6 separate regions of the Homo sapiens genome follow, and all the other regions are linked to region 1. The links come from fine-mapping of genetic effects on gene expression. A gene starts in region 1. Each other region holds a variant in brackets. All regions are shown on one strand. Distances are from middle to middle. Region 1 holds the start of CYP4V2 (cytochrome P450 family 4 subfamily V member 2). Region 2 overlaps KLKB1 (kallikrein B1). Region 3 overlaps F11-AS1 (F11 antisense RNA 1). Region 4 has its middle 3.8 kb from the start of KLKB1. Region 5 overlaps KLKB1 (kallikrein B1). Region 6 overlaps F11 (coagulation factor XI).

Evidence for each region. PIP is the estimated chance that this variant, and not a neighbour inherited with it, causes the effect.
Region 2: its variant is fine-mapped to the expression of CYP4V2 in fibroblasts (GTEx, PIP 0.94).
Region 3: its variant is fine-mapped to the expression of CYP4V2 in hippocampus (GTEx, PIP 0.98).
Region 4: its variant is fine-mapped to the expression of CYP4V2 in pancreas (GTEx, PIP 0.92).
Region 5: its variant is fine-mapped to the expression of CYP4V2 in whole blood (TOPMed, PIP above 0.99).
Region 6: its variant is fine-mapped to the expression of CYP4V2 in adrenal gland (GTEx, PIP 0.97).

What each region holds. Positions count from the first base shown.
Region 1 is chr4:186,189,468-186,194,543 of GRCh38, reverse strand. CYP4V2 (cytochrome P450 family 4 subfamily V member 2) reads right to left here and starts at 2,977. Exons shown (of 11, transcript NM_207352.4): 1 at 2,507-2,977; 2 at 1-44. The coding sequence starts at 2,720. It overlaps FLJ38576 (a long non-coding RNA gene), which reads left to right and starts at 3,054. Exons shown (of 1, transcript NR_046264.1): 1 at 3,054-5,076. RefSeq lists a silencer at 2,651-3,180.
Region 2 is chr4:186,239,133-186,244,208 of GRCh38, reverse strand. The region is part of intron 6 of KLKB1 (kallikrein B1); the gene reads right to left. It overlaps LOC124900873 (a long non-coding RNA gene), which reads right to left. Exons shown (of 2, transcript XR_007058497.1): 2 at 3,715-5,044. Among named protein-coding and RNA genes, the nearest start is that of KLKB1, 14 kb to the right of the region's middle. RefSeq lists enhancers at 1-381, 382-910, 2,499-3,104. The variant A/T (reference allele first, on the strand shown) is at 1,949.
Region 3 is chr4:186,452,713-186,457,788 of GRCh38, reverse strand. All of the region lies in intron 1 of F11-AS1 (F11 antisense RNA 1), which reads left to right. Among named protein-coding and RNA genes, the nearest start is that of F11-AS1, 46 kb to the left of the region's middle. The variant G/A (reference allele first, on the strand shown) is at 2,253.
Region 4 is chr4:186,221,157-186,226,232 of GRCh38, reverse strand. It overlaps a transcript of KLKB1 not described here. Among named protein-coding and RNA genes, the nearest start is that of KLKB1, 3.8 kb to the left of the region's middle. RefSeq lists an enhancer at 1-219. The variant G/A (reference allele first, on the strand shown) is at 2,810.
Region 5 is chr4:186,233,140-186,238,215 of GRCh38, reverse strand. It overlaps KLKB1 (kallikrein B1), which reads right to left. Exons shown (of 15, transcript NM_000892.5): 4 at 4,158-4,264; 5 at 1,276-1,435. Among named protein-coding and RNA genes, the nearest start is that of KLKB1, 8.2 kb to the right of the region's middle. The variant A/T (reference allele first, on the strand shown) is at 3,067.
Region 6 is chr4:186,279,618-186,284,693 of GRCh38, reverse strand. It overlaps F11 (coagulation factor XI), which reads right to left. Exons shown (of 15, transcript NM_000128.4): 8 at 4,573-4,682; 9 at 4,309-4,471; 10 at 4,114-4,220; 11 at 434-602. Among named protein-coding and RNA genes, the nearest start is that of F11, 16 kb to the right of the region's middle. The variant C/T (reference allele first, on the strand shown) is at 3,054.

The sequences.
Region 1 (5,076 bases):
GTGGCGGTATTCCTCTGTGTACTCAATGATCTGCTGAAAAAATTCTGGGGAAAAACATCAAATTTGAAATTCAATCAAGATGAGAAAGTTGTGACCAGTATTGGACAAAGGTTTGTTTTCTCATTTTGATGAATATACTAATTCTGTAATATGTTACTGTTAGAGGAAGCCAGGTAGAGAGCATGTGTGAACTGCCTGTAATACTGCAACTTTTCTGTAAGTCTAAAGTTTTTTTCAACATAGTATTTGCCACAGCAAATAAACACACATAATGCATGTTAGCTATTAGAGAATAATAATTATTAGGTTTTGATGTCCCAGAACGGGCATTCTTTCTAACGACTGCCCAGTATCACAGAGCTAGTAAATGGTGGAAACTGGCTTGTACCGAGCGAGACTCCAGAACTTCACCATAAACTATGCTGCTTCCAAATGTCTCTCAGATGAAGCAGTTGTCAAAATTGCTATGAAGGGAGCTGGGTGAAATCACCAGTGTCAATCATCCTGCGTCATGCAAATATACTGCCTGCCCTGGTCTGGTCTGACAGAGGGGACAGGGAGGTCTCAATCTGTGGTTCTAAGGCAGCAGGTCCAACAGCTGGGAGTAGCTGGGGAAGGCAGACTTTGTCACAATGGACTGGAAAATGCTAGATTAGAGTTTAGAGGCCAGTTGGAAGCCAACTGCAATCTTCAAGGTGAAATGGCTGAGGCCAGCGTTTGGACATTAGCCGCAAAATGAAACGCAACACCTCTTGTATGTGAAAGACAAGATTCTTGGGAACAACGACTGTATCTTAGAATATTCTGATATCCCCAACTTTGTTGAGGTCAACACTGGGCACAAAGCAGGGCCTTACTAAATGCTTGATTGACAACTAAAGAACTTACTCTAACTGACTTCTAGACAGTGATCTAGAAACTTTGCATGCAATAAATTTAATCCTTAAAGTGACTCTGTAATATAGTCACTTTAACAAGTAAAGGAGAAAGAAAACCCTCTAAGTTAAAGAGTTTTAAATAATTTCTCAAACAACTTGGATATAGTGTTGGAAATTGAACAGTGGTTTTCCTGATGCCAAAATCCAGAATTTGTTGGTGGAATAAAAAGTCCCTTTGTAAAAGACAGTATTCGTCATTGTCTTCACTCTGAAAGTGACTACAAGGAGAATTACTTTAAATAGTCCAGTCAGCTCACAGGTTGTTTTGAAACAGGTCTTTATTCACTAGAGATTTTAATTACTGGAATCCCCAAAACAGTATGATGAGACTTCAGTATATTACTTTCCAGGGGTAGGGGATAGGGGAAAATCTATATTTTTGTACAGTTTATTTTTTAATACCATAAAGCCTTAGGACAAAAGGGGTGGTTAGCTCTGCTTTTAGAATTAACTGAGATGATTTTTACCAGTGTGATTTTCATATCTGTGTTGGATTACTTGTTACATCAGTCATGATGATATTTGGTTGGCAAAGAGTTCGCTTGATTTTTTTCTGTCAAAGTATTTTTAATATTTTGGTAAACACTCTTCCATGAGGCCTCATCTTGTGAAGTTGAAATTACAGCATTATTTTTATTAGAGAAAACAAGTGAAAATGAGAAAAAGTCCTTCAAGCTTTGGAGTTAGTTAATGCTCAGCCTGTAAAACGATTACTAACAAATAATCCCAGAGGAAACTGGGTTCTGGTCTGGGCCAATTTTAAAATATGCCATTTTGGGCAAATCTTCTCATTTCTGGGTACCTCAACGTAATCCCTGATGAAAATAAAACTCTGAGATCGAGTTCGCCCTCCCTGACAGGGAGTTGTAAATACCAGGTACTTTTGAGAGCTTTCTAACTTAACGTGATTTTTTTCCATCAATAAAATGTCCATCTCTGTTTTAAAACATGATTTTAATTAAAAAATTCACTCTTTAATAAACAAGGCGTTTGACACCCTCCAAAGAAGTCTGCCTGAAGGCCCTGCCGTCTCTTAATTGTTATTATGTAACATCCTTTAAAGGGCTAAAGTATGAAGGTCAAGCGGGAACTGAAGCAGCAGTCAAGTCTTGTGATGCCGGGAGGAAGCGTCCAGTGAATCTCTAGTCTCTTATTTTCCAAAGTGGCAGCGAGAGGAGGGCGGCTCTGGGCGTTAAGGTGTTGGCCAGTTTAAAACCGCTCTGTGCTCCCAGGGAGCTTCTGTTCCTAAGGCTTCCCAAGCCAAGGCAGGAGGAAACGGCAGGGCTTTGAGAGCTGAGCAGCGGTGAGGTGGGAAAAGACCGAGGGCAGGGGTTTGGAAATACCGCATCCTGTGCTACACACAAAGAAAATGCTCACTTTGGGATGGGGCACTAGCAGTGTCGGCGGGTGCCAAGGGGCAACGACTAGAACTGGGAGTGCATTCTCCACAGGGTGACAGGCTCCTCTCTCCTGCGGCCAGCGCCACAAGCAGCGGGTTCCTGGCTGATCGGAGGGTGGGAACGGGGCTGCGGACCCCGTTGCGCTCCAGGAGGAGCGCCGGCCCTTACCTCGCCCGTCCGGCTTCATCAGCAGCGCGTGGCCCACCAGTGGGTAGGCGCGGGCCACCGTGGGGATGGGCCGCATCTGCTGCCATTTCCGCGCGTAGCTCGCCACCCTCTGCAGCAGGCTCAGGACCAGACTGGCGCCGGCCAGGGAAAGGGCACTCGCCGCGCCCCACAGCAGCAGCTTCTGCCACACGAGCCCCAGCCAGAGCCCCGCCATCGCCCCGGCTGGCGGCCGCGGGGTGCACTCCGGGAAAGTGCGGGCCCGCGGGGGCGTGGTGCGAGGCGGTGCCGGCCGCACACCGCCCACTTCCCCGCGCGGACCTGGCGCGCTCCCCGCTGCGGGGTCGCCCGGTCCCCGGAACGACGTTTCCCGCCCGGGCGGCGGCCAGAGAGGGCGCCACGGGGCTGTTCCTGCGCCCGGCCCGGCCTACGCAGCACCGCGGCCTCCACGCCCCAGCCGAAAGCGAAAGACCGGAAAACGGTTTCCGGGCCCCAGGGCGTAGTGATTGCACTGGAGGCCCGGAGGCTGCGCCGGGAGGAGGCCGGCGACACTTCCGGCCGCCTCCGGATGCGGGGTCAGGGGCGTCGGAAAGGTCACCGCGGCAGCCCGGCGCGCCCCAGCGGGGCTGTTCTGAGGGTGCTGCGAGGTTGCTCTACGTGCGGGATTCCGCGGGCGGGCAGCCTGCTCTGGAGAGGAAAGGAAGGCGCATCCGGCTCGGAGCCCAGCTCTGCTGCGCATCGCTCGCTCCCTGCGCAACTTGCAGCCCCGGGAGGCGGGGCGCGTCCTGGCTCCCGCGGGGTCACATGGAGCAGCGGGCGCTGTAATCCAGGGAGGCTTTGGGGACACGTTAGGGAAGTCAGCTACCCGTGTGTGTCCGCTGGCCCACTGGGACACTGGGAGCTCAATGAGGTGGTTATGAGCCAGGTATTTTCCAAAATACGCACCAGGCACCAGACCGAGGAAGCCGGAGCCCCGGAGAGCACGCAGGGGCGGGTGGGAGAGGAAGGCGGGCGAGGCTGCTCAGCGGGTGCCGGGAGACCGCAGCCGCGGGGTACTCGCAGAAGAGCCAAGACCTGCCACCCAGCCCGGGAAGGGAGGGAAGGGCCGCGAGAGGGTGCCCCATTTCAGCCTGGGGAGACGCGTGTGCTGGCCGCCAGTCTCTCTTCCCGGCAGAGGGCCCCAGTGCTGACCCCAGCCCCTTTTCCACGCTCGATGCTTCTTACAAAGTGGCCGGGCGAGGAGTGTCGCTCCCCGAGAGGCCAGGCCCTTCCTAAACACTAAAGTGCCAGGAAGATGAAACTGAATGTCCTGGATGCCCGCTTTGCTTAATTACTAATTACGTTCGTTCACTCGAAGCCACTGCATAAGTTGGCCACAGCCACCTGCAGGGCCTCTTTAGTGCAGAGAAAAACATGCCTAAGGCTTTTCTCCATTTGAATTTGTTTTAAGTCATCTGCATGGGCTGACGTGAAATAGCAAGTGAACAAAACAAGTTGCAGAACGGAGTGTGTAAAGTAATGCCTTCTTTTGGAGAAAAGGTTTCTTTCTCTACGGCTCCACTAATGTCTGCAAGTAAAAATACTGATCAGCTCTATGGAGTGGGAATGAAGATGGGGAACTTACGCTTTTTATTTCATTCACGTCTACATTGTTTAATCACTTTAACACTTTAAAAAATAAATATGTTCACTTAGTATCTTTAAGCAAGTCTCATGGGCTTTAGTTTCCTCCTCTCTAAAGGGTTGAGGCTGAGCTATAATAAGGTTAATTACAGCTATAAAAGTAAACAATTTGTCTACATACTGGGGATTCTAAAATAGGGGGAGGAAGGAAGGGGAGTAATGGTTGAAAAACTGTGTATTGGGTACTGTGTTCCCTATTCAGGTGAGGGGATCAATAGAAACTCAAACCTCAGCGTCAGGCAAATTTAACAAACCTGCACATGTGCTCTTGAATCTAAAATTAGAAAGAAAAAGGGTTTGTCTGTATCAGTCTCTGCTAACCTCTGTGGATAAAACCAGGCGGGTAACATACAACCCCTCCCCTCCAGAAGGAGAGAAGGGAGATTGCTCTGGGCAGCAGTGAGTCTCGGCCTGGGCAGAAATGGTCAGAAATGCTGCAGAGCCAGGAGGGGTAAAATGAGCTCAGGGGGCAGTGAGGTGCCCCTGCCTGGAGCACAGGGTCCCACGCAGTGACAGGTGCAGGATGAGGTGGGTGGGTATGGAGCCAGCTTAAAGAGACCTGCACTGCCAGGCTTAGACGCTTTATCTTTATTTTGAAGGCAATCTGTGGGTAAAGAACAAAATAAAAGCCTTGTCCCTTTGTTCCCTTAGCCATCTTTCTTATGCTTTCTTTGTTACCAGATAGGGCCTTTCTCATACTACCCTGGAATACTGAAATTTCAGACTAAACCAGTCAGGTGGCTGGGAGTGCAAGAAATCCTTGGCAAGACCCTTCTCCCCGGAAAGCCTCCTGACAGCAGAGTACACAGTGTCACACCTTAGAATGTCCACCATGAAATGTAATGGTGCTCAGTGTAGCAGATGATTGCAAGGCCAGTGTGAAGGCAATC
Region 2 (5,076 bases), 50 kb before region 1:
AATCCTTTAGCCACTCCTCTTGCCATTCCTTAAAAACAGCCCTAGAAACTGCTCCCACACTAGCTCTCCCTAACTCATCCCAACCCTTTTCATTACACACAGCCGAAGTGCAGGGCTGCGCAGTCAAAATTCTTACACAAGAGCCAGGACCACGCCCTGTAGCCTTTCTGTTCAAACAACTTGACCTTACTGTTTTAGGCTGGCCCCCACCCCCATGACTGTATCTCTCTGATCCACCTGACATCCACTCCATTTCCCCATATTTCCTTCTTTCCTGTTCCTTACCCTGATCACACTTGGTTTATTGATGGCAGTTCCACCAGGCCTAATCACCACTCACCAGCAAAGGCAGGCTATGCTGTAGTATCTTCCACATCTATCACTGAGGCTACTGCTCTGCCCCGCTCCACTACCTCTCAGCAAGCTGAACTCATTGCCTTAACTCAGGCCCTCACTCTTGCAAAGGGACTACGTGTCAATATTTATACTGACTCTAAATATGCCTTCCATATTCTGCACCACCATGCGGTTATATGGGCTGAAGGAGGTTTCCTCACTACACAAGGGTTCTCCATCTTAATGCCTCTTTAATAAAAACTCCTCTCAAGGCCACTTTACTTCCAAAGGAAGCTGAAGCCATTCACTGCAAGGGCCACCAAAAGGCATCAGATCCCACTGCTCAGGACAATGCCTATGCTGATAAGGTAGCTAAAAAAGCAGCGAGCATTCCAACTTCTATCCCTCACAGCCAGTTTTTTTCTTCCTCATCTGTCACTCCCATCTACTCCCCCATTGAAACTTCCACCTATCAATCTCTTCCCACACAAGGCAAATAATTCTTGGACCAAGGAAAATATCTCCTCCAGCCTCACAGGCCCATTCTATTCTGTCATCATTTCATAAACTCTTCCATGTAAGTTACAAGCCACTAACCCACCTCTTAAAACCTCACTTTTCCTTTCCGTCGTAAAAATCTATCCTCAAAAAATAACTGCTCAGTGTTCCATCTGCTACTCCACTCCTCCTCAGGGATTGCTCAGGCCCCCTCCCTTCCCTACACATCAAGCTCGGGGATTTGCCCCCGCCCAGGACTGGCAGATTGACTTTACTCACATACCCGGAGTCAGGAAACTAAAATACCTCTTGGTCTGGGTAGACACTTTCACTGGATGGGTAGAGGCCTTTCCCACAGGGTCTGAGAAGGCCACCGTGGTCATTTCTTCCCTTCTGTCAGACATAATTCCTCAGTTTGGCCTTTCCATCTCTATACAATCCGATAACAGACCGGCCTTTATTAGTCAAATCACCCAAGCAGTTTCTCAGGCTCTTGGTATTCAGTAAAACCTTCATACCCCTCACCATCCTCAATCTTCAGGAAAGGTAGAACAGACTAATGGTCTTTTAAAAACACACCTCACCAAGCTCAGCCTCCAACTTAAAAAGGAGGACTCTGTCAAGGATAGAGCCCAAAAACTCACCAACCAAGCAAGTAATTACACTGAACCCCCTTAGGCACTCTCTAATTAGATGTCCTGGGTCCTCCCAATTCTTAGTCCTTTAACACCTGTTTTTCTCCTTCTCTTATTCAGACCTTGTGTCTTCCATTTAGTTTCTCATTTCACACAAAACCATATCCAGGCCATCACCAATCATTCTATATGACAAATGCTGCTTCTAACAACCCCACAATATCACCCCTTACCATAAAATATTCCTTCAGCTTCATCTCTCCCACTGTAGGTTCCCACGCCGCCCCTAATCCCGCTCGAAGCAGCCCTGAGAAACATCGCCCATTATCTCTCCATACCACCCCCAAAAACTTTCGCCACCCCAACACTTTACCACTATTTCGTTTTCTTTTTCTTATTAATATAAGAAGACAGGAATGTCAGGCCTCTGGGCCCAGGCCTGCACGTATACATCTAGATGACCTGAAGTAACTGAAGAA[A/T]GACAAAAGAAGTGAAAATGGCCGGTTCCTGCCTTAACTGATGACGTTACCTTGTGAAATTCCTTCTCCTGGCTCAGAAGCTCCCCCACTGAGCACCTTGTGACCCCCCACCGCTGCCCGCCAGAGAACAACCCCCTTTGACTGTAATTTTCCACTACCTACCCAAATCCTATAAAACGTCCCCACCCCATCTCCCTTCACTGACTCTCTTTTCGGACTCAGCCTGCCTGCACCCAGGTGATTAAAAAGCTTTCTTGCTCACACAAAGCCTGTTTAGTGGTCTCTTCACACGGACGCACATGACATTAAATATATGCAATACTTCAGCCCAATGTCCTAACCTGTTAAAATTGTTTTTACTTTGCTTTTCCTATCTAATATGTTGGGCACTATTTATAGATATTTTGGCCAAGCAACCAGTTGATTTCTAGGACATTCTCTATTTCAAGTATGCCATCTGGTTAGCCTCCGAACAGAAACCATGATGTTGCTTCCCCTAATTGCAATTTTATCAACCAGCTTCGTTTATCAGACTTTCTTCCCCAGAGGTGATAAAAATAAAAAAACCTTTTTTTTCCAATTTATGTTTTCCTCCTTTTGGCTTGAAAATATGTGTACCATCTCAATTGATAAATTAATAAGTCACATGGTAGGAATTTTCCATGTCAGAGTTGCAAATGGTTTTGTTAAATTAACTGAGGAAACGTGGTTAGCCTGACATCTCTCAAGATCTATGCAGGAAGATGGACCACAAGAGAAGGAAATCTGTAAATATAATGAATTCATATGTGTTGAGAGGCAGGAGGCTTTAAAACACCATTAAATCCATTAAAAAAACAAAAGGTGGAGTGAGCACTGTGAAATGTGTGTGACCCAAGGGTCGAGTTCTGGTTCAGCTCATCAGCTGTGTTGCCCCCGGAGCACCTTCACTTCTACCCTCCTTCCAGGAGCCTTAGGGGTTTTGTTTGTAAAATTAGGAAAATCCTTGGTGAAACCAAGGACAAATCTGTAGTGATAACTACAGATCATCCCTAACTTATGAATCTCATTTGGGCAGTTAGGCCAGGAGACAGCCCTACTCTAGGTTTAGGAGGCATGTGGCTACTGGGTGTTCCCTGAGGAACGGGGACCACGTACTCAGTGAAAAGCCACGCCCTTAGCAGCTCAAAACACCACCTGAAACAGCCATATTTTTATCAGTCTGTAAAGGCCATTTGATCCGATTAAATCACATGTGAACTCACTGCAATTTAACAAGAAAGCAAGTACACAGATGAGCCATCCAGGGTGCTCTCCCAGGTGTGGACAGCAGCTGTGACAGCCCAGAGCCACAGCACGAGCTTGCCTGTTCCCTGGGTAAGTGCAGCAAATCCTTCCAGCAACAGGGCTGGGTACAGAATGGAGCATGTTTGCATCGAGTCCTGCCTCCTGGCAGCCTTCAAAAACTCTCCCAGAAAAAAATAATATGAACGTTAAAATTAAATCACCAGTACACGTGAACCTGGCACACACCATGGAGAAGGTGTGCTGTCGCAAAGAGGAGACAGGAAAATAGCCACCTTGTAACCAACCTTCCCAATCTTCCACAGGGAAATCCTAGCCCAGCACCCAATACAGGGCCAGGCACAGAGCCAGCACCCAGTACTGCGGAAAACTGGCCGTAAGGGATTTGCTTTTAGTAACATCTTGTCATTAACATCCTGACATGCTAAATGAGGTGGAATGTCATGGCAATTTTCTGGATAATTCCATTGAAATTACCTTTATGTGTGAAACGACAGAGTTTTATTTCCCTACCCCTGGTAGAGTCATTTCACTAGATAGGGACACAACCAAGGAATGACCTTACAGTTTTGCTACAACATCACTGTACCTATAACTATAACAATATCACTGTCCTATAACTATTACAACGTCACTGTACCTATAACTGTAACAATATCACTGTCCTATAACTATATCACTGTCCTATAACTATAACAATATCACTGTACCTATATCACTGTAACTACATCACTGTCCTATAACTATAACAATATCACTGTCCTATAACTATAACAATATCACTGTACCTTTAACTATAACTATACCACGGTAACTATAAGAATATCACTGTCCTATAACTATAACAGTATCACTGTCCTATATCACTGTACCTATAACTCTAACAGTATCACTGTACTAGTTTCCTATAACTATAACAATATCACTGTCCTACAACTATAACAGTATCACTGTACTAGTTTCCTATAACTATAACAATATCACTGTCCTATATCACTGTACCTATAACTCTAACAGTATCACTGTACTAGTTTCCTATAACTATAACAATATCACTGTACCTATAACTATAACAGTATCACCGTACTAGTTTCCTATAACTATAACAATATCACTGTCCTATATCACTGTCCTATAACTATAACAGTATCACTGTACTAGTTTCCTATAACTATAACAATATCACTGTCCTATATCACTGTACCTATAACTCTAACAGTATCACTGTACTAGTTTCCTATAACTATAACAATATCACTGTCCTATAACTATAACAGTATCACTGTACTAGTTTCCTATAACTATAACAGTATCACTGTCCTATATCACTGTACCTATAACTCTAACAGTATCACTGTACTAGTTTCCTATAACTATAACAGTATCACTGTCCTATGTCACTGTACCTATAACTCTAACAGTATCACTGTACTAGTTTCCTATAACAGTATCACTGTCCTATATCACTGTACCTATAACAGTATCACTGTACTAGTTTCCTATAACTATAACAATATCACTGTACCTATAACTCTAACAGTATCACTGTACTAGTTTCCTATAACTATAACAATATCACTGTCCTATATCACTGTACCTATAACTCTAACAGTATCACTGTACTAGTTTCCTATAACTATAACAATATCACTGTCCTATATCACTGTCCTATAACTATAACAGTATCACTGTACTAGTTTTCTATAACTATAACAGTATCACTGTCCTATATCACTCTACCTATAACTCTAACAGTATCACTGTACTAGTTTCCTATAACTATAACAGTATCACTGTCCTATGTCACTGTACCTATAACTCTAACAGTATCACTGTACTAGTTT
Region 3 (5,076 bases), 260 kb before region 1:
CTTTATTCCTTTACTTTCCTAACAAACTTACATTCACTTTCCTCTATGGACTCACTCCCAATTCTTTCCTGGGCAAGGTCTAAGAACCCTCTCTTGGAGTCTGGCTCGGGACCCCCTTCCGGTAACAGGAATGGTGCCCCAGGCTGACTACTGGGTTCCATGGCGTCACAGGGACCAGGATATGCTCTGGCGGGATCTGTGGTCTTAACAGGTAACCCAGGTAGCAAGTACTTTGTTCTACTTCTTCACTGGCCCCTGAAAACCCACAGGAAATGTTTCCCATCACGAGATTGCCCTGCCAAACTGAGAATGAGAGATAGCTTTCCTCCTCGGTAAAGAGAGTTAGGTCTGCAGATTTTGTGTGTAGAGAATATGTTTGAAATACTTTCCACTCACTGGTCAAACTTTTGGAAGAAAACGTCTTCTAAAATGGTTTTTCTTTGATCCAGGAACTCTGTTTTTGTTTATGAGAATATTATTGTCATGAAAACTTTAAAACGTAGAGAGAATAATATGATGAACACCCACCAATCTAAGTCATATTATTTTCTGTATCTAAAAGCCAGATTACTACCTATATGTTGCAATCTAGCTATATGTTGCTTCATATAAATAAAATATTACAGATACAGTCAAACTCTCCTTTTTCTTATTCCCAAAATGATTACCTTCCCTTCTGCACCACAGGTAATGGTAATTGCACACTGGTGGATATGCTTCCTATTGTTATTTGTTTTTATTTTTATTTTTTTTTTTTTAGAGATGGAGTGTCACTCTGTTGCTCCAGCTAGAGTTCAGTGGGGCAATCACAGCTCACTGCAGTCTTGAACTCCTGGGATCTTCCCACCTCAGCTTCCTGAGTAGCTGAGACATCAGGCACACACAATCAGCTATTTTTTTTTTTTTTTTTTTTTTTAGGGACAAGGTCTCCGTGCATTTCTCAGGCTGGTCTCGAACTCCTGGACTCAAGTGATCCTCCCACCTTAGTGTCCTAAAGCACTGGGATTACAGACATGAGCCATCATGCTGGCCCTATTGTTATTTTTATATATTTACTATTTTTACATATAACCATACATAATATATTTAGTATCTTCAATTTTATGAAAACAAAATCATACTTCTATTATCTGCAACTATGTTTTCATTGAATATTATGTTTTTGAGATTACTCATTTTGACACATAGTGTGCTAATTTATTTATTTAACTGCTGTATATTAGTGCATTGTATTATTTTATGATAATTCATTCTTCTACAAATGGATATTTAAAGTACTTATATTTTTCACTATTACAAACAATGCTATAATGAACATTGCTGGGGAAATTTAATTTAAACCAAAATCTTCTCCCAACCTAGAAAACCTCTTCACAAAGGTAGCAGAGAAAGAAAACAGTTTTTAAAAATTGAATAGGCATTAAATCAGAATGTGCTATATATCACAGACAACCCACAAAGAGATTGCAAAGACAGAAAGAAATCTCACCCCTTCGTATAACCAAGCAGATACAATTCATTACATACATGCTCTCAAGGTATATAATAACTAGTCCTCAAGTGAGAGAATGTGATAGCACCATTTATTACACACAGTTCATCCTAAATTCACCTGGTAATCACTTTTAAATGAGGGAAAAATAAACATTTATTTTTATGACAAGAGGTAGTTTTGCAACTAGGAGCAAGGCATCCCCCAAAGACAGGCTCTTACTCTCCCCCAGAAACTGGGCCACAGAGGCACTGTCTCACTCGATGTTTACAAAGAGGTGATTTCCAGGTGCTTGAGAAAGCCATTCCTGGGTCGTAAAGCTGGCAAGAGGCTTATTGGGCTTGGAAAAAGATTTAGAGACAGAAAAGGAACTTACAATTACAAATCTTCTAAAGTAAATGTTCTAAGAAAAGAGAGAGGGAGAAGTTTCTTACCTTATTTTCAAACGGAAGAATTCGGCTATCATTTTTAATCTTTTTTATTTTTATTTTTATTTTTTATTTTATTTTATTTTATTTTATTTTTTTTGAGATGGAATCTTGCTCTGTCACCCAGGCTGGAGTGCAATGGCGTGGTCTCAGCTCACTGCAACCTCCGCCTGCCAGGTTCAAGCAATTCTCCTGCCTCAGCCTCCCAAGTAGCTGGAATTACAGGCACCCACCACCACGCCTGGCTAATTTTTGTATTTTTAGTAGAGACAGAGTTTCACCATGTTGGCCAGGCTGGTCTCGAACTGCTGACCTCATGATCTGCCCGCCTC[G/A]GCCTCCCAAAGTGCTGGGATTACAGGCGTGAACCACTGTGCCAGGCCCACTTTTAATCTTTATTTGTCCTTAAAATATTATTTTACATGTCTCACTGCAGATGTGTAAGGTATTAATATAATGCACGTAACAAGTAAAATTGCTCTTTTGTAGAACTTGTACTTTTGGGGGGTAGCTTTCATAGACATAATCAAAATACTTTCAGGATGGTTTTTCAAGTTTATACCCACACTAATGACGGATGAGTATTTCCATTTTTCAAAATTTTCACAATACTTGATAATGTTAGACTTTATAATTTTTTTCTTTTTTAGCATCAGGTTGGTGAAAACAGGTTTCATAATGTGTACAAAATGGATGGGTGAAAATGGTGTCAGCTTTAGTTTAACTTTTTATTTCCCGGGTTATTAGTGAAGTTTTGGTATCTCTTCACTGGCCACTTGTGTTTTTTTTCTGTGATTTGCCTATTTGTTTTCTTTGAGAATTTTTCTGTTCAGTTATCTTTTTAATATATTTTTCAAACTCTTACAAATCCTGAACATTATCCCTCTATTAATTAGATGCTTTGCAAATGGTCTGCTGATCTGTGGTTTGTCTTTTTGAGGAAAGCCTAAATAATTTTCAATGTGATTATTATACTTAATACAATAAGGCTGTCCTGACAGTGTTAACAAGAATTCTGGACAGAAATGTTGTTGTAATTAAGCAATAATCAGGCTGCGCTTTGACCCACTTCCTTGTAACTGAAAGGGCTGTTGCACCCGGCACTGAGCACTCACGTCCGCACTGTTCCTATAGGGAGGATTTCTGACCTTAGAATCATAAGGCTTGTGTTTAAGAAGTGCTTAAGCAGATTCTGAATTCCAGGAGAATAGTTGATGCCACCAGTTTGAAGACCCCACAGAGGAGCCAAATCAACGTGGGAATGCTGTTTCTTCATCTTCTTGTCCCAGTATTTCACCCTGCACTCTTTGACCAATCCATGATCTTCACACTTCAGCCTACTCCAAAATTCTTTAAAAACCCCACCCTCCTACTCCCCAGGGAGATGAATTTGGGGTTTCCTCTCATCTCCTCATTCAGCAGCCCTATGATGAAACCCCTTTCTCTGCTGCAGCCCCATATCTCAGTATGTTGACTTGCTGTGTGAGTTGGGCAACAGACCTATTATGGTTACAAGTGTTATAATAAACTGAGAAACTATGTCATGTTAAACATATATACTAGGACTCCTCCAAGCATACTCACACGGTTGTTGGCAAGCATCGAGCCCTTTCTCTGTGGGTCTCTTCAGAGAAACTGCCTCATGGCGTGGCTGCCGACCTCCCCCACAGGAAGGAGACCAAAAGAGAACATCAGAGAGTGCCCGCGATGGAGGCCACAGTCTTCTTATAGCCTAACATTAGAGCAGTGTCCCATAACTCCTCCAATACTCCATTCATTAGACGTAAGTCACTAAGTCCAACTCATACTCAGTGGGAGGAGATCCTATAAGGGCATCAATGCTAGGAGGTCGGGACATTTGGGGTCATCTTAGAAGCTGTCTACTGCAGTAGATTTTTGAGTATTTACCTGTCTATGAATGTTATAATCCCATTCTCACATTGGATTAATAGTTGGGTTAATTATAAAATTCTAGGTTGCAAGTCATTTTTCTTCATAAATGTAAGGAATTTCTCCAAAGTTGTTGAGAAGGTGGCCATCCTCCTGATTTGTGATGTGACTTGTTTTTCTTTATGGAAGTTTTTAGCAGCATCTCTCTATTTTTACGTTTTTACAATGAGGTCCTTCACTTTGGGAACTTTTTCTTGAACTTTTTCTTTGATTATTTTTTCTTCCCTTTTCTTATCTTTAAATTTCCTATTGGAGAGATATTGGCTGTCTTCTTCTTTTCTTCTCATGTGATCTCATTGTATCTTTTTCCTCTTCGTTTTGGTCTATCTTTCATGCTGGAAGATTTTTCACGTGTCTGGTGATTGATCCTTGGCTGTCCATTCATGGTTGAAAATGAACCACTAAAAAGCTGGTTGGATGCTCTGTAGGTAAGAGCTGAATTTGAGGGCTTGAGGATTTCATTGAGAAGGCCACAATATAGTGAACTGGTAGTGTCAGAGTCCTGGGGGAAAAAAAGGCAGTGTTTAAATTAGGACAATTTTTAGGAAAATTGAGTGAAATGACAACTTACAATGATGTAGACAGAATTGAAACTACCTTTGCAAGGATTATGACAGCAAGGTAAGTCTAGCATGGCTGATTCCATCTTGCTTCTAGCCCCACAGGCTGGCTGTCCTCACTTATTCCTAGGCATGGGCCAAGATAACTGATATGGTTTAGCTCTGTGTCCCTACTCAAATCTCATCTTGTAGCTCCCATGATTCCCACGTGTTGTGGGAGGGTCTGATGTGAGATGATTGAATCACGGGGGCAGATCTTTCCCCTGCTGTTCTTGTGATAGCAAATAAAATCTCACGAGATCTGACAGTATTTTAAGGGAGAGTTTCCCTGCACAAGCTCTCTTTGCCTGCCGCCATCCACATAAGATGTGACTTGTCCCTCCTTACCTTCTGCCATGATTGTGAGGCCTCCCCAGCCCTGTGGAACTGTGAGTCCAATTAAACCTCTTTCTTTTGTAAATTGCCCAGTCTTGGGTATGTCTTTATCAGCAGCATGCAAATGGACTAATACAATAACTATGGGAGGAATTTAGTTTCTGGTTTAACTTTAAAGCAAGGATGATAACAGTTCCCCCCTAAAACTGACTCCCTCCTTATTTGGGGACTGAAACTGCCTTTGTAAGACTAATGAAAGGCCACTGTCTGAGAA
Region 4 (5,076 bases), 32 kb before region 1:
ATTGCCTTAAGAAAGCTCAATAAGCTACAAAACAATATAGATAGACAGTAAACAAAATCAGGAAAACAATACATGAGCAAAATTAGAAGTTCAACAAAAAGATAGATAGGAACCATAAAAAAGAATGAAACAGAAATTCTGGAGCTAAAGAACAAAATGACTGAATTGAAAAAATTCACAAACAGCTTCAGCAGCAGACTAGATCAAGCAGGAGAAAGAATCAGCATGCTCAGATACAGGTCATTTGAAATTACCCAGTCAGAGTAATAAAAGGAATGATAAAAATTGCAGAAAGCTGACAAGACTTATAGGACACTGTTAAGAAAATTAATATGCATTAGAAGAGTTCCAGAAGAAGTAGAGAAAGAGAAAGTTGCAGAAACTTATTTAAAAAAATAAGAATAGAAAACTCTCAAAATTTGGAGACATAAATGAAATAAACATCCAGATTTATGAAGCCCAAAAGAACTCCAAATAGATTAAATATAAAGAGATCCTCGGCCAGGTGCAGTGGCTCATGCCTGTAATCCCAGCACTTTGGGAGGCCAAGATGGGTGGATCATGAGGTCAGGAGATCGAGACCATCCTGGCTAACACAGTGAAACCCCATCTCTACTAAAAATACAAAAAAAATTTAGCCAGGCGTGGTGGTGGGCACCTGTAGTCTCAGCTACTCCAGAGGCTGAGACAGGAAAATGGTGTGAACCCAGGAGACGGAGCTTGCAGTGAGCCGAGATTGCGCCACTGCACACTGCACTCCAGCCTGGACAACAGAGCTAGACTCCATCTAAAAAAAAAAAAAAAAAAAAGAAATCCTCACCATGACAAAGAGAGAATTTTCAAAGAAGCAAGAGAAAAGCAATTCTTCACATACAAGGGAAGCTTCATAAGATTATTGGTGGATTTCTCAGCAGAAATCATGTAGGCCAAGAGAGAGTGGGATGATATATTCAAAGTATTGAAAGTACAAAACCTGGCAACCAAGAATATAATATCAGGCAAAGCTGTCCTTCAGAAAGGAAGGAGACAAAAAGAATTTCCCAGATGTATTAGTCCAGTTTCACACTGCTGTAAAGATACTACCTGAGACTGGGTAATTTATAAACAAAAGAGGTTTAACTGACTCACAGTTACCCATGGCTGGGGAGGCCTCAGGAAACTTATAATCACGATGGAAGGCAGAGGGGAAGCAGACACCTTCTTCACAAGGTGATACGAGAGAGAGAGTGTGTATGTGCAGGGGAAACTGTCACTTTTAAATCCCTCACTATCATGAGATCACAGCACAGGGGAAACCACCTCCATGATCCAATCACCTCTCACCAGGCCCCTCCCATGTAATCCCATGTGGGGATTACAATTCAAGACGAGATTTGGATGAGGACACAGAGCCAAACCATATCATTCTTCCCCTGGCCTTTCCCAAATCTCATGTCCTTTTCAGATTTCAAAACCAATGATGTCTTTCCAACAGTCCCCCAAAGTCTTAACTCATTCCACAGTAACCCAAAAGTCCGAGTCCAAAGTCTCATTTGAGACAAGGCAAGTCCCTTCCCTCAATGAGCCTTTAAAATAAAAAACAAGTTAGTTACTTCCAAAACACAATGTGGGTACAGGAATTGGGTAAATGTTCCCATTCCAAATGGGAGAAATTGGCCAAAATAAAGGGGCCACAGGTCCCAAGCATATGCAAAACCTAGCAGGGAAGTCATTAAATTTTAAAGCTCCAAAATAATCTCCTTGGAGCCCCTGTCTCACACCCAGGGCATGCTGATGCAAGGTGTGGGCTGTTAAGGCCTTGGGCAGCTCTGTCCCTGTGGCTTTGCAGGGTACAGCCCCTACGGCTGCCTTCATGGGCCGGCACTGAGTGCCTGCAACTTTCCAGTCAGTGGATCTACCATTCTGGCATCTGGAAGATGGGGGAACTCTTTTCACAGCTCCACTGGGCAGTGCTCCAGTGGGGTCTCTGTGTGTGGGCTCCAACCCCACAGTTCACCTCTGCACTGCCCTAATAGAGGTTCTCCATGAGGGCTGGGTCCCTGCAGCAGGCTTCTGCCTGGACAGCCAGGTGTTTCCACACATCCTGTGAAATCTAGGCAGAGGCTCTCAAAGCTCAGCTCTTGTTTTCTGTGAACTCGCAGACCCAAGAGCACGTGGAAGCCACCAAGGCTTGGGGCTTGCACCCTTGAAGCGACAGCCTGAGCTATGGACCCTTTTAGTCACAGCTGGAGCTGGAGTGGCTGGGGCACAGGGCACCAAGTCCCAAGGCTGCACAGAGCAGCAGGGCCCATGAAACCATTTTTCCCTCCTAGGCCTCTGGGCTTGTAATGGGAGGGGCTGCCTTGAAGACCTCTGAAATGCCCTGGAGACATTTCCCCATTGTTTGGCAATTAACATTCAGCTCCTGATTACTTATGTAAATTTCTGCAGCCGGCTTGAATTCCTCCTCAGAAAATTGGTTTTTCTTTTCTACCACATGGTCAGGCTGCAAAATTTCCAAACTTTTATGCTTTGCTTCCCTTTTAAACATAAGTTCCAATTTCATACCATCTCTTTGTGAACGCATATGACTTGACTGTATGCTTTCAGAAAAAGCCAGGTTATATTTGAATGCTTTTCTGCTTAGAAATTTATTCTGACAGATACCCTAAATCATCTCTCTCAAGTTCAAAGCTCCACAGATCTCTAGGGCAGGGGCAAAATGCTGCCAGTCTCTGCTAAAGCATAGCAAGAATGGCCTTTGCTCCAGTTCCCAATAGTTTCTCGTCTCCATCTGAGACCATCTCAGCCTGGACTTCATTGTCAATAC[G/A]ACTATCAGCATTTTGGTCAAAACCATTCAACAAGTCTCTAGGAAGTTTCAAACTTTCCCACATCTTCCTATCTTCTAAGCCCTCCAAACTGTTCCAACCTCTGCCTGTTACCCAGTTTCAAAGTTGCCTTCACATTTTCAGGTTGTCTTTATAGCAGTACCTCACTCTGCCAGTACCAATTCTCTGTATTGTTTATTTTCACACTGCTAAAAGATATCACCTGAGACTGGGTAATTTATAAACAAAAGAGGTCTAAATGACTCACAGTTCCTCATGGCTGGGGAGGCCTCAGGAAACTTACAATTATGGTGGAAGGTGAAGGGGAAGCAGGTACCTTCTTCACAAGGCAGCAGGAGAGAGAGAGAGCATGTGCGCACGGGTAACCACCACTTTTAAACCATCAGATCTCATGAGAACACCCTCACTATCATGAGAACATAATGGGGGAAAACACCTCGTGATCCAATCATCTCCCAACAGGTCCCTCCTTTGACACCTGGGGATTGCAATTCGAGATGAGATTTGGGTGGAAGTTCAGGAACAAATCATATCACCAGACAAATAAAAGCTGTGGGATTTCAACACCATTAAACCTGCCTTACAAAAAATGCTAAAGGGAATTCTCAAGTTTAAACAAAAGGACACTAACTAACATGAAAACAAATGAAAGAATAAAACTCTATTAAAGGTATTCTTATACAGTCAAATACAGAATACTCCAATACTGTTATTGTGCAACAGTCACTTTTAACTCTAGTATAAAAGTTAAAAAACAAAAGTATTAACAAATAACTATAACTACAACAATTTGCTAATGAATACACAACATACAAAAGATATAAACTATGGCATGAATAATAAAATGTGGGAGGAGGAGAAGTTAAAATACAGTATTTTTAAATGCAGTCAAAGTTGTTACCAGATTAAAATGGATGGTTATAACTATGAAATATTTTATGTAAACCTCATGATAACCACAAAGAAAAAGTCTGTAGTAGATATACAAAACATAAAGAGAAAGGAACCAAAGCAAATTGCTCCAAAAAAGTTATTAAGTCACAAAGGAAGACAGTGAGACAAAAAGAAGCAACAAAGGAACTACAAAACAATCAGAAAACAATTAACAACATGATAGTAGTAAGCCTTTACCTACCAATAATTACTTTAGATGTAAATGTATTAAATTATCCAATCAAAAGAGAGAGTGGATGAGTGAATAAAAAACAAGATCTAACTATATGCTGCCTGTAAGAGACTAACTTTAGCTTTAAGGACAGACATAAGCTGGAAGTGAAGGGATGAAAAAGAGATTGCATTCACATGATAACCAAACGAAAGCAGAGGTGGCTATCCTTATAACAGATGAGATAGAGTTTAAGTCAAATACTGTCACAAGAGACAGAGAAGGTCATTATATAATGGTAAAAGGGTGAATTCATTAAGAGGATATAACAATTGTAAATACACATGTACCCAAAATCAGTGCATCTAAATCTATAAAGCAAATATTAACATAACTAAAGGAGAAATAAATAGCAACATGCTTTCAACAATGAATAGATCACCTGGACAGAAAATCAACAAGGAAACTGTGGATTTCAAAATGCTATAAACCAATAGACCTAACGGACATGTGCAGAACATTCCTTTCAAAAGCAGCAGAATGCACATTCTTTTTAAGTGCACACAGAACACTCTCCAGGATAGGTTATATGTTAGGCCATGGAAAACATCTTAACAAATTTAAGGATTGAAATCATATCAAGTATCTTTTCCAACCATAATGGCATAAAAGTAGAACTCAGTAACAGAAGGAAAAATGGAAAATTCACAAATACATGAAAATTAACATACTCCTGAACAACCAATGAGTCAAAGAAGAAATCAAAAGGAAAATCAAAAAATGTCTTGAGAAAAATGAAAAGAGAAACAAAATTTGTGGCATTGAAAATTTATGGGATGCAGCAAAAGCAGTTCTAAGAAGGAAGTTTATAGCGATAAATACCTACCTTAAGAAAATGGAAAGATCTGAAATATCCTAACTTTACACCTGAAGCAATAAGAAAGTAAAAAAAAAAAACTAAGCCCAAAGACAGAGGAAGAAAGAAAATAATAAAGATCAGAGCAGAGATAAATGAAATAGAGACTAGAAAAACAACAGAAAAGGTCAATGACACTGTTATTGTTTTTAAAAAGATAAATCAAGAAATCTTTAGCCTAATTAGGAGAAAAAGAAAAAAAACTCAAATAAAATTATAAATGAAGG
Region 5 (5,076 bases), 44 kb before region 1:
TGAGGGGCAGGGAGCAGTGCAGGTAACAGTTAGTATTAAAATGCACAGTGGAAAAACAATGACCCTGATAATGAGTGGGTTAGGGGTCTGCATTATTAACCTAATGGACATCCTTCCCCTCGCAAAGGGGTAAAGGAAAAGTTAGGGTGAGAATGAGGCAGGAGACTCCGTGACACTAAACCCTCATTCTATAAGCAAGGCCTATGTGTGGGGCAAACGGAACTTCAGGAAAAATGACACCAAAATTCGCTTCAGGAAAGCGAAAAATGACACAGACTTCAGAAAATGACTTCAGAAAAAATGACACCAAAATTTTGCTTCAGGAAAAAATGACACCAAAATTGAGTAGAGCATGGAGCGATAGACAGTAGAGACTGGGAAGGTGACAGAGAGGTGGGAAGGGGGCGGGCGTTGAAAAATAGCTTAGTGGGTACAATGTACATGACTCCAGTGATGGATATACCAAAAGCCCAGACTTTACCACTGTAAAATACATCAAAGTAACAAAATTACACTTGTACCCCATACATCTATGCAAATAAAAATAAGATTTAAAAATAAGGAAAAAAATCACAAGTTAATATCAAATTGTGATTAGCTCTATGAATGAAATAAACAGAGCTGAGTGTGACTTAAAAGAGAATGCTCAGAAATGGGCTTTTGGAGGGGACGGTATTTGAGGAAAGACCTGCAAGAATCAGCTTTGGAGAAGTAGGGGAAGAGGATGTCAGGCTTTGAAGATGCGGTACAATTACATGCCAGGGGAAAAGAGTAGAGAAACAAATGAAATTAAATGAATTATTTAATTAAAAAATGAAGGGCGAGGCGCAGTGGCTCATGCCTGTAATCCCAGCGCTTTGGGAGGCTGAGGTGGGTGGATCACAAGATCAGGAGTTCGAGACCAGCCTGACCAACATAGTAAAACCCCGACTCTACTAAAAATACAAAAATTAGCCAGGCATGGTGGCGGACGCCTGTAATCCCAGCTACTCGGGAGGCTGAGGCAGGAGAATCGCTTGAACCCGGGAAGCGGAGGTTGTAGTGAGTCGAGATTACGCCACTGCACTCTAGCCTGGGCGACAGAGCGCGACTCCATCTCAATAAATAAATAAATAAATAAAAGATAAAAAAATAAAATAGAGTAAGTAAATGAGGAAAGTGGTTAGAATAAAAGCCCTGTTTGGTTTTTAGTTTGGGAACAAAAGAGGTTAAGAAGAATACAGTGAAATCCTGGAGGCACCAATACAAAGAACACACACCTTGAATTGTACTCACCGGTACTCTGCCTTGTGAAATGTTTGCGTGGCATATGAAAAAAACTGGCAGCGAATGTTACTGGTGCACCTTTTTTGGCATTCTTCAACACTGCTAACCTTAGACACATTAAAATTGACTCCTCTCATATCAACTCCTTTATAAATGTCTCGATGGCAAGCTGTACAAGAAAAATACATAGAGCAAATACAGTCCATTTTCTTTCTAGAGGTAGATTAGATACCCACTACCATTTGGGTTGGTAGTTTAGAATGATAATAGCCCAGTTTTGGCAACTGCTATATTAACTAAGGGATTTAAAATTTTTATTATGTACATAAATTATCGAACTCTGCTTGAAGTAAATACAATCCAATATTTTCCCTAAAGCACTAGCTTTGAAATTGGGTTACTTCACTTCTTAAACTGCAAGATGCATGCAGCAATACAGGTAAATTTCACGTTGAAATTATCAATGAGCAGTGGGAAATAAACAAGGCAATAATAATGAGGACACTGATAATGTGTGCTGAGGTTTGCATTATTAAAGAAACTGATGTGCCTTTGACCTTTCGCATTGAATGAAAGAGCTTCTCTATCTCCCAGTGTTATTTCTTTGCTTTCGACTTCTCCTGTCTGATGACAAATTGCATCCAGATCAATCATTACAAAATGTGGAGAGTTGTTGTTTACGCATGATGAAACCACTTCCATTCTTGCTTTAAAATAGTGTTAACTTCTATTTAAGCACCCTTTTCATTGAGATTTGTCTTACATGCAAAAGATACAGATAATTCTTTTCACAGACAGTGAAGCAAAATTAGGCTCTTTTTTTTTTTTTTTTTTTTGAGACGGAGTCTCGCTCTGTCGCCCAGGCTGGAGCGCAGTGGCGCGATCTCGACTCACTGCAAGCTCCGCCTCCCGGGTTCACGCCATTCTCCTGCCTCAGCCTCCCGAGTAGCTGGGACTACAGGCGCGCGCCACCACGCCCGGCTAATTTTTGTATTTTTAGTAGAGACGGGGTTTCACCGTGTCAGCCAGGATGGTCTCGATCTCCTGACCTCGTGATCCGCCCGTCTCGGCCTCCCAAAGTGCTGGGATTACAGGCGTGAGCCACCGCGCCCGGCCTCTTTTTTTTTTAAAGATTCAAATTTCTTGGTTAGACTTTTGGTTAAGGAAGTAATGTAACCAGAAGTATAAACTGTATACTTTTTTAAAGTTTTATTCCCCAAGATTATGTGGAATAAACCATAATCTACTACAGATACCTTTCCACTCCTAAGAAGTATGGTTGAAGTCATAAAACTAAATTTAAGGGTGGGAAAGACAGAAAATACACAAACTGTCAGGAAAACTATATGACAGTACGATGAGTTGGGCAGGGAGGTGGATTATTCACTGTGGTTCTTAAACACAGGAATTTGCAGACTGTGGAAACGAAGTCTCTTTCCTATTTTTCTGCATGTGAGAAAAGAACAGGCTAAGAGTTGGGATGCGACTCTTACAAATAAAAACTCTTTAAGTGTTCATACGGAAGCTCTAAATGCTTTTGACTAGAATTGTTCTTGAGTGTAGAGATTTTATGTACTTGGGAACAATTTTTCACTTTAAAAAACATTAAAAGCAAGCTAAGTGAGTAACAGTGAGTTTTAGAATACATGAACAATAACAGGAATATTGAGAAAGGCACAAATTACTTTTTCTTTAAATTTTGCTACAAGATACAACAATCAGAAATAGCACTTACTCGAATAATTTATACCAAATTGGATTAACATAAAAATTGATCTTTTAAAATAGGAAATGTACTCC[A/T]CCTCACGTAGACTACACCTATTATACTGGCTAAGTCAGGCCCACATTTATAATGAAGGCATTGCCATCCTTTGATAACTGGTTAAAATGCAAACAGCAGGCTCAAAGTGTGTACGTATTGAAGAGGTGATATCAATGAGGGAGGAAAGGATGACAAATTTAAAAACATCTGAAATTTGAACCTACAAAATTAATTGTGCATAATGAAAATAAAATAGTAATGATATATAGTCATACATAGAATAACAGCAGTTATTTTAAGATTCTGACAACCCATCAGTTGAATCTTTTCAGCACTTTTCACTTTCTTATCAGTCCCAGTCATGTTTGAGAAATAGTTCATTTGTCTTAAATTTATTAGGATAGCATTGGAAACTGTTTCCCAAGACATCAGTAGCTTCAGATGTCAGAATCAAAGTTCTCTAGCATCCTAGTCCTCAAGTTTCCTTTAGGAAGTATTATTCTTAGCAAGATTTGCAGAACTCAGTTCTTCAATTTGGGCCTAGTGGTATATCACAGAGTTTCTTGATGTCAGCACTGTTGACGTTTTGGGCCAGAAAATTATTTGCTGTGGACGACTGCCCTGTGCCTTGTAGAATGTTGGTCAGCATTCAAACATTCTGGCCTCTACTTAGTAAATGCTAATAGCATCCTCCCTAGTTGTAGCCACCAAAAATGTCTCCAGACATTGTCAAATGTCCCCAGTGGAAGAGACAAAATCACTGCTGGTTGAGAATCACTGATGTAAAAATTACCCTCAAGTGAACTTGAGAGAGATGTTCCCTTGTGTTTTCTTAAAAATTCTTATCTGGAAACGAGACACAATTATTTGGATTCATTTTCTGCAAATCTTACACTTGAGCGCTAACCTCATAAATAATAGAGGCTCATTAAGTATGTGTTGATTTATAAAGACAATAGAAGTGTCCAGATGAATATGGGTCCCTCTTTTGTGTCCAGAATACTGCCCCATCTCCTATCTTTATGAGTGATGCCTTCCAAAAAGCTGTAGCAGTACAAACTTTGAGCAAAAGCTGTTCTAAGCGAGATCCAATATTAACTCAAATGTAGCTAAGAAATTCACAACTTACCACTTATTTGATGACCACATTGCTTCAAGGAATGTCCAGAAACTGCACCTGTTCGATGTACTTTTGGCAGGGTTCCTGTAACACTATCTTTCAAGAAGCAACCAAACCTATTTTAAAAGTAGCTTTACTTAGGAAGTAGAATAATAAACATACATTGAGGAAATGTCTAGCATTTTCTACACACTAACAAATAAAACCAGGAATAAGGAAAATAATATAGCTTCCCCAATACTTGCTGGAAAGAACACTCTTAGAGCTAATTTTATAACACCCCATAATATCTAACTCCATCACTGCGTTTTCTTTACACTCACATTTTTTAAGTACAGGAAATCAACCATATTAAAGAGTTAATGATTTTTCCTGTGTTCTTAAACTTTCAGGCAACTATGTTCTCAATTGGTAATTATTTTTGCAAATACTTTCATTTACTTAAAAAGTTAACTTAGTGATAAGAGCTGGATTTGTATATCGTGTTCATCTTGCTTATTAACTCCTTGTAGTCTGCACTTAATGGAAGACTTCCCTCTGTCTTAGATGTCCACCTTCATGTTAATTTCATTATTTATAAGAATTCTAGAACCTTCCTCCACTTTTAATATGATGATCCTCACATACAATCTGAGTTTTCTCTACAAGTTTAACATGTGGGATCAGAGAATGACTATCCAATTTCTAGTTGGTAAACTCACATAGAGTGAAGATGAGTAAAGAGTTATGAACATGGAAATGGGAACAACAAAGAAAAGCTTACTCTGGATATTAATCAAAAGGAAAAATCATTAAGATGAAACTGTGGCTCGTGATTAATAAGCATCTCTCTGACCTAATAAAAATTGTAATTACCGCTGGGTGCGGTGGCTCATGCCTGTAATCCCAGCACATTAGGAGGTAGAGGCAGGTGGATCACGAGGTCAGG
Region 6 (5,076 bases), 90 kb before region 1:
TGACAGGCGTGAACCACCACACCTGGCCACTTTCTGTATTTAAACACACACGCACACACACACACACACATATTAGAAATTTGATTCAGACAATGGTAAATCCTCTGTGAGTTTAGTTCCGGGCACAGTGCACAGAGCGAGGCACAGAGGGAGGTATGCTCTTGCAGGGAATAACATGAAGGCCCTTGGGGATGTGAATGCGGTTAAATGGGAAGCGGAATAGCAGGCAGTCAAGCAGCCTTGTACCTGCACCTGTTCTGATGCTGGGAGACCATGAGCTCTTCCTTTTTGCGTTTTTTACCACTGAAGCAATTAATTAATTTTGCAAATAAGACAATCTAATTGGTTAAAGTATTTATTTCCTAACATGCTAGTAATATTTTTTATAAATGTGTGAAGAAGATGAACTAATAAAAACAGCCGTGGTACTGACCCATAGAAACAGTGAGCGGCTGTTAATATCCACTGGTTTCCAATGATGGAGCCTCCACACAGGTGTCTCTGAGTGGGTGAGGTTGTGTGCAGGGTCACCTGCCACGGCCACTCACCACGAACAGACGCAGTTCCTCCAACGATCCTGGGCTTGATTTTGGTGGTACACTCTGCAACAGAAGCATTGTGATGAGCAGCTTCCTACATCTTCCTTTCCATCAGTAATTATGCTCCTTCAGGAACAAGAAGAAAACCTTTCCTCAAGTCAATAGTTTATCATGACCCTGAGTTACAGAGACTTTATAATCAAGCTGCCAAAGCAAAACATGCACATGAAAAATGGAATTGACTAAGTCATCTTGTAATTACACACCCCTAAGAATGTAGCCCTCCTTGTGTGGTACTACAAGGCTGTCTTACCCTCCTTCAAATGATAACGTGAATGGTGTTTTTAAACCAGTGGTTGTCAAGTGCAGTCTCCAGACCAACAGCGTCACCTGGGAACGTGTTAGAAATGCACATTCTTCAGCCCAACCTCAGATCCAGTGAATGAGAAACTCCAGCCTGGAAGCTCAGCCATCTGTGTTTGAACCAGCCCTGCTGGCGTTTGAGAACTGCTCTTAGAAAGAAAAGGCAAGCACCTTGCCCGCAGGCTGCAGCCATTGTCCAGTTCCTGCCCTGTCCCAGTGACTCTGCTGACCATGATCCCAGTCACTCCTGCTCCACCCACGTCCAAAGTAAGACTGATCTGCTATGAACTTCCTCTGACCTTTGGCCTTGTTGACAGTTTGGGATTCTCTGGGGTCCTTGGTACTTTTCAGGGACTTTGACTCAGGCTCATCCCTCTGTTTCTTTTCTCTTGGGGCTGCCTAGACAGGACAGTGCCCTCTATTTCTACTTACTGGATGCCCGACACAAGAACCCACCCTCCCGGTTGGAGCCATGGAACACAGATGGATGGGAATAGGGTGTTCGTAGACAGCAGTATTCTAGACACACACACACACACGTGCACACAAACACACGCACACATACATGCGCACACACACGCACACACCTATGCGACTCAAAATTTATGTGCCTGTGGGTTGCCTGTGTAGCTTTCAAAATGCAGATTCTGACTCAGTAACATCTGTGTGGGTCCTGAAATTCTTTCTAACAAGCTCCCAGGTGATGTCAATGTGCTGTGCCCAGATCACATTTAGAATAACCAGGCTCAGGTGCTCAGAAGGCTCCGCGTCCTGAGCTAAGGGAGGAGTCTAAGTTAACAGAAGAATCACTGATGAGAAGCCGGGTCCTAGAAGGTCCATTCACTAGTTTTGTGGGTGTAAAACAACCTTTCTAGGCCTTTTTTTCCTTGGTAGGAAAATGAGTGTATAATTCTGGGGCAGATTTCAAATAGGAGGAGAGGATGAGAGAAGGAGTTCGGAAGGAAACAGCAGCTAACAGCAACTGAGGTGAGAACGAGCACGATGTGACTTCGGAAGCCTGAACAGAGGCTCTCATTTTAGAGCCGGAAGGGTGAACATTCATTTTGGAGGGCCATCTATTCTGGAATTTCTGCAAGGTGGGAAGCGTCATAAAGGTAAATTTTAGGAAAATTAATAGGTAAATAGTAACTAAGATATTTTAGAAATAACTCAAGGTCCAGGTGAGAGGCCTTGAGGTTCATCCTATGCTGTTTCTCAGTTTAAACGAAATGCTGAAAATATGTGTTTAGAATCATATTTTGTGGTAAGAAATGTTTATTTTAATGGTGCTGCTATCTATCTTCAGAAAGTTAAGTTACATTGTAGACCAGTGACAGACAAGGCACCATAAATATCTCACGCAGCTATTCCCTTTCACATTAGGGGGTTATTTCATCAAATACAGCGCAGTAAAAACCTAGTTATCTAATTCACTCCCTCCAAAGTTGCACTGAAAAGACGTAAGACTTTATTTTCCTTTATCTTACATTTTCTCCTGTAGCTATCAATCTATACCTGGCATATTCTGTAACTTCTACAGGCCAGAGTCTATAAATCCAACAGAGAAAACCATAATGAAGAAGGAAGGGGGAAAATGCAGTCTGCAATGTATTGAGGTATACGTGCTCATTCCCATTTTATTAAACCATGTCAACATTACTTAACAGCAACATTTGCTAAGTGTCCCTTCTAACGCTTAGAAGTAGAAGAAAGACAACAGAATGGTGCCGAATGCTCCTTCTTGTCTTAGGGAAATTTATTGTGAGGAAAACAGAATGTATGAGATACGACGTAATTGACTTGCTTTTTAAGAAGTCTTGAGCCATCCAGAGATTTTCATCGGAGCGCCTCTAAGCTCTAGGAAGGCATAGTCTGTTAGTTAGGATACCAGTGTTGGAGGCAATATAACGTCTTTATGTTCTACAAAACAAGTTCTCAGAAATTAAGGATTGATTCGCCTTCTCGGTACAGCAGATAATCTGACACAGAATGTTTTTGTGCTTCTAAAACTATCACGAGGCAGGATTGTTACTTCCATTTTATTCATTAAATCTCAGTTGCACCTTATAGTGTATTGTAATATTGGACATTTGGCAATAAACAGTATAAGAACATGCAGCTTTATGTAAATCAATATATAGTAAAGCCATC[C/T]TAAGTTACTATGGTAATTTAAGCAGGAGTGTTTGTGGTGTGTTCTTTCCTGTTGGGGATTTTGTCCCTTAGAACAATTCTGTTTGCCTACAAAGCATCTCTCGTGACTATGCTCAGAAATTGGCCACTGGGATGGAAACACTGCTGGTTGGATTTTTATTGTAACTTTTATGTTATTACAGGTCTCGTGTAATCTAAACACTTATTTCCATCCTACCACACTCATTGTTACTAGTAAAGTTTTACCTTAACCTTTGCCAATCCCTAAGTCTCCAGAACCCTGCATGGAATCTGAATAAAGACCCTAAAAAGGAGGTGCTCCAGTATTTCTTGAATAGATACACAATTTTTGGAAGAAAATTAGTAATTTGACTAACCAAAGTGCTGATCGATAATTCCCTTACAAAGGATAATAGGAAAGATTACTGGCCTTGATAACAGGAGTGTTGGCAGAGTCTGGGTCTCATTAGGAAATGCCAGTTGTGGCTGGGTGCAGTGGCTGAAGCCTGTAATCCCAGAACTTTGGGAGGCCAAAGCGGGAGGATTGCTTGAGCCCAGGAGTTCAAGACCAGCCTGGGCAACATGGCAAGATCCCATCTCTACAACAAATTAGCCGAGTGTTGTGGTGCACGCCTGTAGCCCCAGCTACTCAGGGAGCTAAGGTGGGAGGATTGTTCGAGTCCAGGAGTTCAAGCCAGAGGCTGCAGTGAACACTGACCACATCACTGCACTCCAGCCTGGGCAACAGAGTGAGACTGTGTCTCAAAAAAAAAAAAAAAAAAAAGAAAGAAAGAAAACAGAAATGCCAGGTGTATAAATGTGTCAAATTAAAGCATATATTTAGTTAATACTAGGCAATGTACAGTTTAGTCAAGCCTCAATATTTACCTTTAAAACATGGTCAGCTTGAGTGACAGGAGTGAAAATAATAGAAAATTGCAAAATTTGTTATTTCCTGAATGTTCTCCCTTCTGTGGCTATAACTGACAGTCTTGATTGTGATGTATGAAGCATGGAATAATTCCTTCAGCTATATTTTTTCAAGTGACATTATACTCACCATTATCCATTTTACACAACCTTAATGTGTATCCAGAGATGCCTCCTCTCCCGTGAAGTATTTTAGTTGGAGATCCGTTTGAAGAAAGCTTTAAGTAACACTTGCCCCTGCAGTTGGAAACAAAACGGTATAAACATAATGCACCTCACAGGCAGACGGGACAAGGGTGTCTGCATAACCCTTCATATGGCTTACTTCCCTTCGTTGCAGGATGCTTGGGCTGGGGTATAGGTAAAAAACTGGCAGCGGACGGCATTGGTGCACAGTTTCTGGCAGGCCTCGTGACTTTTTGCAGCAACAATATCCAGTTCTTCTCCCAAGAAATCAGTGTCATGGTAAAATGAAGAATGGCAGAACACTAGACAGCAGACCACATGTCAGAGTGAGACCCTCCCTCAGCATGTATCAGCCTCCTCGGGGCTGGTCACTCTCAGCCAGAATGCAGAACTCTCAGTTTACCTGGGATGCTGTGCCTGCAGCTTTGTAGACTGAAACCAGAAAGAGCTTTGCTCTTTTTAATGCGTGTACTGGGCAATCCACTCTCAGATGTTTTAAGGAGACAAAGATTTCTAACAAAAACAAAAGGGAAGTAGAAATATATCATATCAAACACATAAAAACATTTTTACAGCACCTAGAGAAAGTAAAGTCAGCTCATGCTAGCACTTAGTTGTGAAGATTTTCCTATTTTGAAAGTACTCTTCATAAACCACGGAGTTACACCCATAAACCATGGAGTCACACTCCATGGCCCTTAGGTTGCAGACAAATTTTCTAACTAAATCACCTCCATAAAAATTTTCTGAGCTTGCTCTATTGTCAGTCTTCCTAGTATCTTCCCTTTTCATTTCCTTCCTTTCAACACTCCCAGCCTATCTTAAAGATTCAAGAGTCTTCATGCTACCTAGAAACCTCCTATCCAGGGTTGCAATAGGTTTATAAGGAGATGGGTGAAGTCCGTCG